Regions from separate parts of the Homo sapiens genome. Here region 2 is linked to region 1. Evidence: fine-mapped expression QTL. A gene starts in region 1. The other region holds a variant in brackets. All regions are shown on one strand. Distances are between the middles of the regions. Region 1 holds the start of PKIB (cAMP-dependent protein kinase inhibitor beta). Region 2 overlaps PKIB (cAMP-dependent protein kinase inhibitor beta).

Region 1 (2,921 bases):
AATCTTTTGAACTTCCAAAACACCTTTTTAGCAAATGATCTCTTGAGATAGTGTCACTAGGGGGGCATTGACCAGCACCCGGCACACTAACAGGAAACAAGGTTTATAAACTGCTGATTTAACCAAACTTGATCCATAACCTACCCCATTTTCCGTGAGCATTATGGTCATCAGTTCTCATTTTAATAATCCAAATGCTGAGCTTTCTAAATATAAAATCCCAGGAGGATTTTTTTTGAATGTGTGGCAATGTCAGTAAGAAGGAAGGCATCTTGTGAAGAGATAAAGTGGACAGATGAATTTTGAAATCTATCTGTACACGAAGAGAAATGCAATACTCGCAATATTTCTAATTCAATACCTTTCAGTATGCAAACCACTGATAAAAGAGTTTTTTTAAAATTTTTTTTCTAGATGAACGTTTAAGTGGTCATTCGCCTCAAATCTCCACTTTCCAGTCCTGCACAGACTCCAGCTAATAACACTACCACCTGCAGGGTGTTTTGTTGTTTGTTTGTTGTTTGTTTTAGTGCTTCCCACATGCCTAGTTCACGCATGCACTTTTCTAAAGGACCCGAGTTCCGTTGGCTGCGTTCCCCGGGGAGCTCTACGAAGACCGGTCTGACCTGGCCCTCTCAGCTCCCTTGGAAGGGACCTGCTGCAAGGCAGGGTCATTTGGCTCCGAAATGCACCTTCAGGAATTTCCCCAAGGGGCTAGCATCAGCACCAACCGGAACACAGGCCCTCCGCTCCCTCAGCCCGCGACCACCTGGCACTCGTGTCCCTCCCTGCGGCCTGCCGGGGTCCTAGGAGCAGGGAAAATCCAATAGCTACGGGCGACCCTTGAGTTTACTCGGTCTACCCACCTCCATATTTTATCCAAAGAATGGACGGAGGCCAGTGAGGTGAGGTGACTTGGCTAAAGCCACACAGCCGGACGCTGGCCGAGCGGGTTAGTACTCGGGTCTCTGCTAACCCCGCGGCCGCTCGTGACTACCCGGGGCTTGGTAAGCACCGCCCAGGGGAAAGACTTGGCATTGCTGGCGCGAGAGCCGAAGGACTCAGCGACTTGTGACAGGAGGTCATCAATGGCCACCTGCAGGGCAGAGTGGGCAAAAGGCAGGTGACAGACCTCCCACGTCACGCCTGTTGGCGTGAGCGTCCTTTTCACTCTCTAAGTACCCTGACTTGTGAGTTAAACGATGGATCGGGTCGCCCAAGCGAAAGAGGCATCTGCTTCGAACTCCCCCCATATTTGTGCCAGCAGGGCAGAAAATAGGAAAGTTGCACTTACCACATCTTCCCTGGGTCAGTCTCCCCCGACTTCCCAAGTCCCACTCCTCCCTCCTCGCATAGGGACACCCACTCACGCGCCCGCTCCACCAGGTACGTACCAGCCGCGCGCAGCTGCCTGCCCTGCCGGTGCCCTGGCGCTCGCGCTCGCCCAGCGCTCTGCGGCCCGGAGCTGCGACTCGGGCTCTAGCTCGCTGCCGCCTCTACAGTCCACCGGGATGCGGCCGCGTCTGAGCTACTGGGCTGGGGCGCAGCCAGGCGGTGGCAGCTACTCGGGGGCGGAGGGAGCGGCCGCCGCGTCCCGCCCCCAGGCTACGAGCGCGGCTCCCCAGGCGGTGTCCCGCTCTCCGTGCAAACCGGGCCACCGCATCACTCCCCGGGGCACGTGCCACGGTAGCTTTTTTCTGCTGGCAGCCTGGGGCGAGCTCTTTTATCCTACTTGTGCGTTAACCACCAACTAATTATCGGTGATCGTCACACAACCCGCGTCCTCCCCGCCCGCCACTCCCAGTTCCCTTGGGCGATGATGAGGTTCTGCTAAGATTTCTGTGACGTGACTGCGGGAATTTCAATTCCCTTCCTGCTTTCCGACGTCGCATCGTGTTTTCTGTCCCTCCGGTTGTACGCGCCCTGAGCAGGGTTTGTGCTCCAGGTGTCATTAAGGTTGCCCTTTGATCTAATGTTGGCTGTTTGGAGAAGGTAGGAAGGTACACAGGCTTATCTACGCCCCGAATCTGGGTCTTCGAGTTTGTTAACAGATTATTTTAACAGATTAGGAAGCAATATGCAATGGAAACAACTTTTTGTGCAATAAAAGCAGAAAATAATGTATATCAAGTTTCACTTTCAGGTTCTCACTAAGAAAAATAAAGTCGTTACTACTAAGGTCTCACTGTGCTTTTTAAAAGCCATATTACATGGACGACGATACTGCTGATAAAATTAATTTATCTGCTTCCTGAGAAAGTGGTTTCTCACTGAAGTCTTAAAATCTCCTCTGGTCTCCTGAAACTCTTAATTAGTACTCAAAGTCTTCTCTTATCTCTAGTCTTTACTAATTTGCTCATTCATACTATGCTCTGACTTGCCACCCAAAGCCTATGACACCTGCCAATGACCACTTCCAAATTCCCTTTTTAGGCAAAAGCCTAAATATGGAAATACGAAAATATAATCAGACTAATATTTTATTCAGTGTGTGCTAATGGTAGTACAATCAAGTTCTTTAAATTATTCAATATTCATACCTCCACAATATAGTAATAATTTTCTCTATTTTCAGATAGTAAACTGAGGTTCAGCAAGGTTAGATACTTTGAACAAGGCTAAATAGCTGAGAAGATTCCAAATCAGTTTTGAACTTAGGTCTTTCTGCCTTCAGGATTGATTGACTTCCTTAAATTATACTCTGCTAATAAAGCTGTGATTTTTCTGAATTGTGATGTAGGCACATTTTGTTTTGTATTAGGTTAGTGCAAAAGTAATTGCAAAAAAGTACTGGCAAAAACTGCAGTAGCTTCTGCACCCGCCTAATAAAAATATAGTTACTTGTGTGGTTACACAAGCATTAATCAAAGAGACTGAGAGTTATTTATATCATTAGTGTAACTTTAAAACTTATTATCTGG
Region 2 (2,921 bases), 100 kb before region 1:
TTCATACTAGAAAGACTTATTCAACATGTATCCTCCATAAAGGTTTGCAGGGAGTTAGTTGGGCTTCTCCCAACCACTTGCAGATTCCCAAAAGGACTAATAAATTTCTCACATGATTGCAGGATATTACATTTGAAAAGATGATATAGTCCAGACTTCCAGATCCAGACACTTAAGTGATGCATCAATATAACATAGCTTAATTTGTGTCAAAGTCTTTCCTAAGTTTAGGCGGTACTCTTTCTTCCATTACCATGATTCCTCCTGCTGCTTTCCGTAACAAAAAACAAAAACAAACCCAGCTATCTACAGGGATAAAAATAAAAAAGAAAATTCACTGTATATGAAAAAGTCTTTCTAAAAATTAAACAGGTTTCCTTTTTAATACATTAGCTTGAGTGGGGTGTGTGTGTCCCTGTGTGGTGTGTGTGTTTGTGTGTGTGTGCTATGTATATTGGGTGTTATCCAGAATACAGTGATATTTTCACTTCTCCTTTAGATGAATATAAGTGGTTATAACCATAGCAAAGCATCCCTACTGTCTACATTTTATATAGTTTAGCTTTTATTTCTAGCTTCAGAGTATTCAGAATTGAGAGGATTTAGCACGGATTTGAAGAAACCCTTCTCATTCTTTTTTTCCCACCTTACCTCAAACCCTATTTATACTCCTTCACTTTCATTTGTTTCACATTATTCTTTCTAACCAGTGACTCAAATATTGTTGGTTCTTATTTTATTGAGGTACTGGAGCCTGCTTAAAGAAGTTAGGGTTCAATTCAAAAAGCATTTATGTAACACCAACTCTGCAAAGCCCCACGCTAGATACTGTGGAATTTGGCACAGTAAGTAAGGTCTTCCCATGCCTTAACTGGCAGTCTGTGAAGGCTGCGTGCTAGCACCTTTACCACGTGAGCAGTGGAGGCAGCGCTTAATTCCAGGATAGAAAATGAGGCCAGGCTTCACAGGGAACACAGCATTTAATGGAACCCCAGAAAATAAGTAAGCAAATTTCAGAGAAGGGCTGCCCTCAGACCACCCATTTCTCATTTAGTTGCTTTTCCAACTACTATTGTACACAAAGTATTCTTAGATTTCAAAGGGGGCACAAATACACTCCAAGTACACAAAATCCCCAGCACTGAATTTGCCCTAGTGGGAAAATAATGTGATTTTGAAGTTCTTGTGTACAATGTGATTTTGAAGTTCTTGTGGTCTGCT[T/C]GTACTCTTCCCTACAAAGAGGGAACACGGCCGTCTGTGTTGGGGGTTTACATGCAAGGCCTAAAAAGTCAGTTCCCTTTTCAATGAGATATATGGTTTTAAAATGTCAAATGGCGGTTTATGACATCAGTAGGAAGAAGAGAAGGGGAAGTTAATTCTTACCAATGTGGTCACAATAGAAATGGCTTCATATCCCTCTGCCTAGTAGAGAGACTGGAACATATCTGCTTAATACAATCAATAAATCAATGTTGAATTAATAGCTGATACCTATCGATTATGAGCTGAAAATGAAGGTCCTTTACATTATTAATATTCATAATAAAGATCAAAAGTAAATAAATAATAAGACTGAAAGTTCAGTTATTCAGTATTAAAATAGATTTTGTTTTGTTAACATCAAAATAGATAGGAGTCAGGCTGTAGACTAATGGCAAATACAATGGTTTTTAGATGTGGGTAGTAAACCTGGATTGGTAGAGCCAGAGCAGTAGTTGCTGCAAAAACTCATACAGTACGACCCTCATCTAGGACATCTGATGGTTATACACATGGACACTTTAAATTTTAAACTTTCATTTCAGAAAGCATTTATAATTAATATATACTTATTTATCTTTCAAAGGGAAAATGCAGTGTGATACCAAATAATAGAACTATTTTTACTAACACACCAAAATTTATAGATGGAAATGAGTATCATCTATCAAAGCAATTACTTTAAGTAGCCACATATTTATTCCACTTCTGAAACTGTTTTTGTGACTCCATCATTGCAACTCATTTTATACTCATACATCAAATAGTGGTAACATGTTCTATTTAAAATATAACGTATTTTATAGTAAACTGTTTTTAATTAAAAAAAAAAACTCCCACTTGATCCCATCTCTTTGTACTAAGAATGACTTCAGCTACTTTTCAAAACCTCCTTAGGTAATTTAGATTTGCACATATTCAAAATAAAACTATTTTAAATGATGATTTGAAAGCAGAGCTTTGGGCACTACTTAACTGCATTAACACACTCTCAAAGTGACTGCCCTTAGTCCTCTTGTTTGTTACACGGTCTATATGGAGCAATGGGAAGTTTGGTCGCCTAAAAGTGAACACTTCTGAAGTTGAATCCTGGACTTTCAACTTCTAGAAAGACATCTAACTTCTTTGTTGATTAGCATTCTACATTTTTAAAAAGTAGGATTTATATTATCTATTTTACTACCCTGGACTCAAATGAACTAATGTTATAAATGTGCTTGGTTAACAACTACACAAATGGAATTTATTTAGATATCAGTCATATAAATTTATAGGCACTATGACAGAGTATCATTATGAATATCAATTATTCTTTTAAGCAACAGTGTTGACGTGGCTCTAGAGACAGCCTCTGATGTTGGACTGTAGGCAGAAAGAGATTAACGCAGCTGGGCGTGATGGCTCATGCCTGTAATCTCAGGGTTTTGGGAGGCTGAGGCAGGCAGATCACCTGAGGTCAGGAGTTTGAGACCAGCCTGGCCAATATCTACTGGCCAGTATCTACTAAAAATACAAAAATTAGCCAGGCGTGGTGACGCATGCCTGTAATCCCAGTTACTCAGGAGGCTGAGGCAGTAGAATCACTTGAACCCGGGAGGAGGAGGTTGCAGTGACCTGAGATCACGCTACTACACTCCAGCCTGGGCAACAGAGCAAGACTC

The links.
Region 2: its variant is fine-mapped to the expression of PKIB in lung (TOPMed, PIP above 0.99).

What each region holds. Positions count from the first base shown.
Region 1 is chr6:122,609,009-122,611,929 of GRCh38, reverse strand. It overlaps PKIB (cAMP-dependent protein kinase inhibitor beta), which reads right to left and starts at 1,525. Exons shown (of 5, transcript NM_181795.3): 1 at 1,395-1,525. RefSeq lists an enhancer at 233-878 and a silencer at 1,495-1,674.
Region 2 is chr6:122,708,658-122,711,578 of GRCh38, reverse strand. The region is part of intron 3 of PKIB (cAMP-dependent protein kinase inhibitor beta); the gene reads right to left. Among named protein-coding and RNA genes, the nearest start is that of FABP7, 70 kb to the left of the region's middle. The variant T/C (reference allele first, on the strand shown) is at 1,222.